Linked DNA regions of Homo sapiens: region 2 is reported to be linked to region 1. The links are microRNA targets in miRTarBase. Many come from high-throughput screens and were not tested one by one. Region 1 holds a microRNA gene; the other region holds the end of a gene's coding sequence.

The links. The annotated mature microRNA hsa-miR-550b-3p reads UCUUACUCCCUCAGGCACUG and lies in region 1 at 2,743-2,762, opposite strand. An mRNA with a match to its seed (bases 2 to 7 or 8) in the 3' UTR can be bound and repressed. Matches are read on the target gene's strand: a 7mer-m8 pairs with bases 2 to 8, a 7mer-A1 pairs with bases 2 to 7 and ends in A, and an 8mer does both.
Region 2: miRTarBase lists TNFSF15 as a target of hsa-miR-550b-3p. The part of its 3' UTR that is shown has no 7-base or 8-base seed match.

The regions. Positions count from the first base shown.
Region 1 is chr7:30,287,072-30,291,328 of GRCh38, forward strand. MIR550B1 (microRNA 550b-1) reads right to left here and starts at 2,819; the gene lies at 2,723-2,819. The region is part of intron 1 of ZNRF2 (zinc and ring finger 2); the gene reads left to right. MIR550A1 (microRNA 550a-1) reads left to right here and starts at 2,723; the gene lies at 2,723-2,819.
Region 2 is chr9:114,786,950-114,791,167 of GRCh38, reverse strand. TNFSF15 (TNF superfamily member 15) reads left to right here. Exons shown (of 4, transcript NM_005118.4): 4 at 262-4,218. The coding sequence ends at 716. Among named protein-coding and RNA genes, the nearest start is that of TNFSF15, 17 kb to the left of the region's middle.

The DNA.
Region 1 (4,257 bases):
ATTAGCTACCTTGTTTTAAAGTAATTTTTGCTTCTTAAAAATATTCATCCCTCTTAAAATTGGGCTATTTTTAAAAGTCATTTGCTTTTGATTTTGAGTAAAAGAACTCTACTGGTGTCCTTAAAGTGATTTGATCACAACTAACCTAACAGTTGAAGTTGCTGTAGTCCGCACTGAAGAATATAAAAGGCAGTTTCTGAGAATTGGTGATTAGTGCGAGAATGAAGGGCAAACTGGTTTTTAATGTTTATCATTATCTTTTTAAAGTGAAAATTTGCATTTAGCAATTATTAGAAGATGAATATTTAAGTTTGCTAAAGAAGGGTGAATAGGAAAAGCCTTGTCAAGTTAATAGTTAATATTTATTTAATATGCTGATTTCTAAAAATTCATTTTCTAAGAGCTGATAATTCCCTTTGAGAAACATTATAGTTCTGTGGGTTTATTTTGTTAAGTAAATGCATTCTATTCAGAGCAAGAGACAGTTGAGCCCCATGCTATTCCTAGTAAGTAAAAATACCTAGTTGCTTAAAGTTGGAGATAAAGCATTTATCTTTTTTCTTATCTAAGTTCTAGATTTGTGCACTCATTATAGTTCTTTTAGTGCTGTTGGGGTTGGGTGACTGGGGCCTAGTAGTACAGTGACACTTTCTGAGGAACTTACAGCAGCCTTTCTCACCCGGCTTTCTGGAGACAATTGTGCCGTAGTGTGCAATGAATTTTAACTTTTAGCTCCAGTGCATTTAGAACGGTTTTAGTTATGTATCATTCTTGGAACAATTGAGAAAAGTCACTGAAATAATTTCCTGTGTTTGGTGATTCAGATGAGGAACCTCAGTTGAGAATTGCTGGAAAGACATCAGAGAAATTACCTGTTCTTATTATATGACAGGATCAGATGAAAGTGCCACATCCTGAAATCTCTGTTGAGGCAGGGAGATGGAATACATTTACGTAAAAACCCATCTTAGTGGCATTGCCTTACTGAGATTTTTACCTATATTTTAGTGGACGGGTTATTAGGAAAACAATAGAAGCATGTTTCTCATCATCTTGAGATTTAGGGAGCTAAATGAAGAATCTTATAATTAAAAAAGACTTGACTAGTTCACATTTACTTAACTTTTTAGTATCTATTATAACATTATTGTGTTTATTCAGTTACAAATTGTATAAATGGTTATATACAAATAACTGCATCTGAAAATTGATAAAAGGATTATTTCAGAATTAGTGGAAAGTTCGTATTGTTTTTTGTAAAACTGTTGTTTTAATTGTTGTTTATATTATTAACGTCTCCTAATAAGAAAATGTGGTACTAATAAGATTCAAAATTATTCTCTTGTGAGCTCTCATGTAATTTATAGAAAATGAAAAACAGTCCCCCCCTTTTATTTTTAACACTTAAGAGTCTAGCAAGTGGAATTGTTAGTAGTTCTCTCATAATGAATTGCCACATTGAACGAGGAAGTTTTCTGTGTTGGTTTTATGTTTTGATGTCATTTGGACATCTGTTTTGGCTATATACACTCTTATTCTCTCTAGAGAACTGGAAGAAAAATGCCTAATCCAGATATTTCAGTGTGTAGAAATTTCCTAGAATTGAGTTGCCAGACATCAGAATGTGATTATATTTATATAGGAGTTTTTAGGTGAAGTAAATCTTGTCCTTATTATTCTTTTCAGACTGAGGAGTGTTAAAGTGAACAGACGCTTTCTTGACTACTGCTAGTGTCGTCCATCACCTTTGTTTTAAAACAGGTCTTAAGGGTATTTCCTAATATTTAAAAATGTTGATGGTATTTTAGGGTTTGTTTGGCTTTAATTTACGTCTACGTTTTTTTTTCCACTGTCAAGTAGCTGTTGTTCATAAGAGCATAATATGAGTGGTCAAATAGCCTTTAATGATGCAGCAAGGATGGGGTAGATGAATTGGGCTATAGAAATATACCAATACATGGAGATTATTTCCAGAGAAATCGTGTGGACTTCTATAATGTATCCTTGAGTCCAGAAGTGAAAATGTAAAATGACTTAATCTAAGACAACCAGTGGTGCTGGGTTGCTTTTGGCCTCCTGATTTTCTTGAGCTTTTTTGGGTGTGGCTTGCTCATGAGTATTTCAGTAGTCTGATTGTAACTCAGGTGCCTTGCTACTTGTGAAACATGTTTTCTTATATTGAAGGAGTGTGGGTTATCTCTTAAAACTGAATATGTTGAATAAGACCTGTATTTCTAGGAAGATTTCTCTTAATTTTTAAGGCAGATGTGAAGTTTTATGGTGTTAGGTTATCTTCATCAATTAACCATTATGGAATCGGTCTCAGTTATCACTTCTTACCAATATCAAGTGCCAAAATGTTTGAATTTGGGATATTGTAATTAATCTATTTCCTATTCCTGAATGTTATTTTGTGCCATTGAAGGCTTTTATGGGGAGTGGCCGAAGAGGAATGTTTGCCTCTTTCTAAGAAAAATGAGCCTTCTAACCACAACCCCTGCCACTCCTGAAGTAATAAGAATTTTGGTGGTTATTGTTCCTCACTTGTAATTTCATACCTTCGTGTTACATGTTTTGCTGTGTGTAAGTGTGGCCTGTGTCATGGAAGTTTCTGCTTTGGGAATTTTTTGGAATTATTCTTGACTGCAAGGTGGGGAGGATTGGTGAGTTGCACAGGGCATCACCTGATCTGAGAGCAGCGTGACCTAAGAACCTGGTATTTTGATGCTTTGCTGGCTGGTGCAGTGCCTGAGGGAGTAAGAGCCCTGTTGTTGTAAGATAGTGTCTTACTCCCTCAGGCACATCTCCAACAAGTCTCTTGCTCTCCTCCAATTTGATCGCTTTGCCTGGTGACCAGTAACTAAGTTCTTCTGATTACCAAATATCATTAATGAGATATCAACTTTTAAACTATTTATTATTATTTGGGTTTTAAGGAGAATTGCCCTAATATTAAACTTATTACATGTAGTATTATGTATAATTGGGTATATTGGCAAATGTGTTAAAAGAGAGTGTAGGAACTGCTTTATGTAGCAAATTACTTCCTAAGTTTTATGTGAATATTCTTAAGAACTGTTATTTGAAATGTTAGTCTGTGTTTTAATTTTGCATGTACATGACATTTATTTGTTAAGAAATTGGACAAAACATAGGCCTTTTTGTGAACAAAGGGTTCAGAAATACCTTAGGTTCTGATTTTATTCGTTTTCTAAGCTGCTTATTCACAAATGACTGCAAATTTAGTGGTTCTAAGCAACACGTTTATTGCCTTGCAATTTCTGTGGGTCAAGAGGCTGGGCACAACTTAGCTGTGTCCTCTTTAAGACTGCAGTCAAAGTGTAGGTCAGGGCAGGGTTGTTATCTAGTGACTCAACTGGGGAAAGGTCTGCCCACAGACTTCCTTGGGTTATTGGCTGAATTTATTTCCTTGTGTCTGTTAGGTTCAGAGCAGCTTGCTTCTTCAAAGTAAGCAAAGGAAAGGTGAACTGGTGCTATGTTCTTACATAATCGTGTACATGTAATCACATACAACCCATTGCCTTTGCTGTATTTCATTCATTAGAAGCAAGTCATAGGTCCAGTTCACGTGCAAGGGGAGGGAATTATACAAAGGTTTAAACACCAGGAAGTGTAGGAATCAAGAATAGTCACATCAGTTCTTTCTGCCACATGGATTATAGATAGATTGACAGCTGAACATGTAACTTCTTTTTTAAACTCATTTTAATTTACTTTTAAAAAGTTGTACTAATGCATATGGTTAAGTATAGCATTAATAAACATGAACTTAACCCCTTTTAGGGGCTGGACATTATAGATACTGAGGGTACAAATATGGAGCTTCTTTATGCACTGCTCAACTCTCCATTGAATTTGAGAGATGGATATATGTGATCATTATACAATGCAACAAATTCTGTAATAGAACTGTTAACAAAACACTTAGTGAAGTATCTTTGTCTAGGCTGGTCAAAAAATGCTTCACAGAGGAGGGTACGTTTGAACTGTAGTTTGAAGGATTTAGAAGTTGTACGGAGAGAGGGCAGTACAGACTAAAGAAAAATCCACAAAAGTGTGGGTTTTGATAGGGCATACTGAAAAGTTAAATATGTCTGGATTGTAGGGTGCATAGAGGAATGATGAGAACCTGAAGCTAGAAAAATAGAAAGTGGAGCCAGTTGAAAGATTTTATAGTGCTGTAGGTTTGTTTTATCTAATGAAGTTTGAAAGCAGGGGGAGTATCATGATTAGGCC
Region 2 (4,218 bases), not on the chromosome of region 1:
AATTAAAAATTTTCAGGTCAGACCACTCAGTCTCAGAAAGGCAAAGTAATTTGCCCCAGGTCACTAGTCCAAGATGTTATTCTCTTTGAACAAATGTGTATGTCCAGTCACATATTCTTCATTCATTCCTCCCCAAAGCAGTTTTTAGCTGTTAGGTATATTCGATCACTTTAGTCTATTTTGAAAATGATATGAGACACTTTTTAAGCAAAGTCTACAGTTTCCCAATGAGAAAATTAATCCTCTTTCTTGTCTTTCCAGTTGTGAGACAAACTCCCACACAGCACTTTAAAAATCAGTTCCCAGCTCTGCACTGGGAACATGAACTAGGCCTGGCCTTCACCAAGAACCGAATGAACTATACCAACAAATTCCTGCTGATCCCAGAGTCGGGAGACTACTTCATTTACTCCCAGGTCACATTCCGTGGGATGACCTCTGAGTGCAGTGAAATCAGACAAGCAGGCCGACCAAACAAGCCAGACTCCATCACTGTGGTCATCACCAAGGTAACAGACAGCTACCCTGAGCCAACCCAGCTCCTCATGGGGACCAAGTCTGTATGCGAAGTAGGTAGCAACTGGTTCCAGCCCATCTACCTCGGAGCCATGTTCTCCTTGCAAGAAGGGGACAAGCTAATGGTGAACGTCAGTGACATCTCTTTGGTGGATTACACAAAAGAAGATAAAACCTTCTTTGGAGCCTTCTTACTATAGGAGGAGAGCAAATATCATTATATGAAAGTCCTCTGCCACCGAGTTCCTAATTTTCTTTGTTCAAATGTAATTATAACCAGGGGTTTTCTTGGGGCCGGGAGTAGGGGGCATTCCACAGGGACAACGGTTTAGCTATGAAATTTGGGGCCCAAAATTTCACACTTCATGTGCCTTACTGATGAGAGTACTAACTGGAAAAAGGCTGAAGAGAGCAAATATATTATTAAGATGGGTTGGAGGATTGGCGAGTTTCTAAATATTAAGACACTGATCACTAAATGAATGGATGATCTACTCGGGTCAGGATTGAAAGAGAAATATTTCAACACCTTCCTGCTATACAATGGTCACCAGTGGTCCAGTTATTGTTCAATTTGATCATAAATTTGCTTCAATTCAGGAGCTTTGAAGGAAGTCCAAGGAAAGCTCTAGAAAACAGTATAAACTTTCAGAGGCAAAATCCTTCACCAATTTTTCCACATACTTTCATGCCTTGCCTAAAAAAAATGAAAAGAGAGTTGGTATGTCTCATGAATGTTCACACAGAAGGAGTTGGTTTTCATGTCATCTACAGCATATGAGAAAAGCTACCTTTCTTTTGATTATGTACACAGATATCTAAATAAGGAAGTATGAGTTTCACATGTATATCAAAAATACAACAGTTGCTTGTATTCAGTAGAGTTTTCTTGCCCACCTATTTTGTGCTGGGTTCTACCTTAACCCAGAAGACACTATGAAAAACAAGACAGACTCCACTCAAAATTTATATGAACACCACTAGATACTTCCTGATCAAACATCAGTCAACATACTCTAAAGAATAACTCCAAGTCTTGGCCAGGCGCAGTGGCTCACACCTGTAATCCCAACACTTTGGGAGGCCAAGGTGGGTGGATCATCTAAGGCCGGGAGTTCAAGACCAGCCTGACCAACGTGGAGAAACCCCATCTCTACTAAAAATACAAAATTAGCCGGGCGTGGTAGCGCATGGCTGTAATCCTGGCTACTCAGGAGGCCGAGGCAGAAGAATTGCTTGAACTGGGGAGGCAGAGGTTGCGGTGAGCCCAGATCGCGCCATTGCACTCCAGCCTGGGTAACAAGAGCAAAACTCTGTCCAAAAAAAAAAAAATAAAATAATAACTCCAAGCCTTTAAAAAATATCATCTGAAACTGTTACATCAGATTTCTGGCACTCTACTGACTGTGGAAGATAGCCAGCTGACTGGAAGATAGCCAGCTGATTAGTTCCCTGAAGAAACCTGAAGACAGATACCTGGTTAACTAGATCAACTACACTGCCAACTTGTTTGATGCTGAGAGACAATGGACTTATTCCATGGGGGAAGGGAAAAAAGAAGTCAATCACCAAATCTGAAGAAGTTAACCTAGATCTTTGAGGTTTGATTTGCAACTTTATATGCAGAGTATTATGTGGGTATTTTCCCTTAAAATATTCAAAGGGATTTACATATGGGATTAGCTAATGAGCCTAGCCAAGACCTTCCCTGGAGGACAGGCTGGTCATTGCGGAGGTCCCTTCTGTGCTTCAGTGGGTTCATATCCTCTAGTCCGTATGATTTTCCTACGCTAATATGTCAAGGGCAGGAGAGGCAGCTCTGTTCTCCTAGCCTTTGTTGACTTGTCTGCAAAGCAGGAATCTGCCCATTTGTTTCCAAGGAGCAAATGAGCTCATGAGAATGAAAGATGTTAACTTCATGCATTCTGTGCCATCTGAGCATTTCGGTATTATATGACTGGTGACCCTTGGCCCGTATTATAAATGCTTCCTATCCTGGGAGACCTCATGGATGAGTCTGAGAGGAAATTTGGCACCAAAATCACTCTCACTCTGGTTTCCAGTAGACTATAGAGGCAGAGAGGCATTTGAGAGGCTCCTGAGCAAAGTGTCCAGTGTAGCAGGAGCACTTCATTAATATTTATTGAGTTATAATTAAATAAAAATTAATTTCTGATTTCTCAGTTTGGAGGTTAAGGCTCTAAATATATTTTCTAACCTCTGCTAGGCTAACTTAAGCCAGGCCTTTTTCTTGCCTTCCCTTTCTCAAAACAGTCAGCACAGACTCAGTGGGAGCACAGAGGAGTGTGGTCACCTCCACCTGGCTCACCAGAGTCTTCATAGAGGAAGTGAAGCCTGGAAGAAACTGGGCGGGCCCCAGATGACCACAGGGAAAGGGCATCTCAGATGGAGGAATTACCCTTGACTTAAAGCAGAAAAGAAAGATTTCTCAGTAACTCCAAAACTTGCTTGATAGGAGAATATTCCCTCAACCAATTCCTAGGACAATATTTATTGGTAGATCAAGAATGTTTCCTCAATAACTCTAGTCTAGCTCCATGATCAGAACTAACACCCATTAAAAACATAAAATGTTCTTTCTGAACCGGTCTTCATGGTGCGTGAGAGCACCAAGCAGCTTTGGTATGCAGGAGGAGTTTTGCACAGAAGAGTGGCCTGCTCAAACCTGCCCACTGTTCTGTAGGTGATCTGGTGGATCTGGAAATTTATCCCAAGACAGGAATTTCCTAATATTCGAAGACATTTGAGGCTTTGGGAAATTCTCTGCTGTGCATTTATTTGGCTCCTGTCATAAGCTTGTTTTTTAAAGAATGTATCATAGCTCAAGTTTTTACTGCTGATTTTGTTAAATTCTGTATAGTATATTTTTTACGGAAAGGCACAGTCAGACATTCCTAATAGGGCTCATGTCAGAACTTCTGTTCCCAAGGCATTATCTCCATAGCAAAAATTAGTGCACTGTTTTCAAAAGTGAGGTGGGAAAATGCTTTTAAGATCATGTGATGTTCCCCTAAAAGGGGTTAATGGGGTGTATTCAGGGTTTGGGAGGGAGGAAGAAGCATGCTTTAGAAAACAGTAAATTTAGGGAGAAAATGCTTTGTTGGTTAAATGTCACTCAAAAGGCTGAATTCAAATCAATTCCACAAACATTTACTGAGTACCTACTGCCCCTGGGGACACAGAGATAAATTATTTAGTCTCAGACACACTCATTCTAACTTCCCAGCACCTCTACTGTCTGCAGATTCTTTAATTTATTTTGGTTGTATTAGCTAATTAATTCGTAAACTTTAGGCACATGGATCTATTCTCATTATGAAAATGGATGCCATTTGATTAAGGCTGATGACTAACAAAATGATTTGTGTTTACTCGAAGTGTTTTTTTAAAAATAGCTACTCAAGGATAGTTTTCCATAAATCAAGAAGGTAAAAAAGTTCCCATTTTTTATTGTAGAATCCATTATTTAAACTACATGTAGAGACAGGTTATTATTTGCTATATTCAAGTTTGGTCATCAATACCCTTAAAAATATTAGAATTTTATGGATGACCCAGAAATGCTTTGAAAATCTGTGTTCCTCAGCAAATACAGAGACCATGATCAAAATGCACAGAATCACTAACATTTTGATGCTAGCATGGTTTCAGTCTATTTGGCAGAACAGAATTGATTATGCT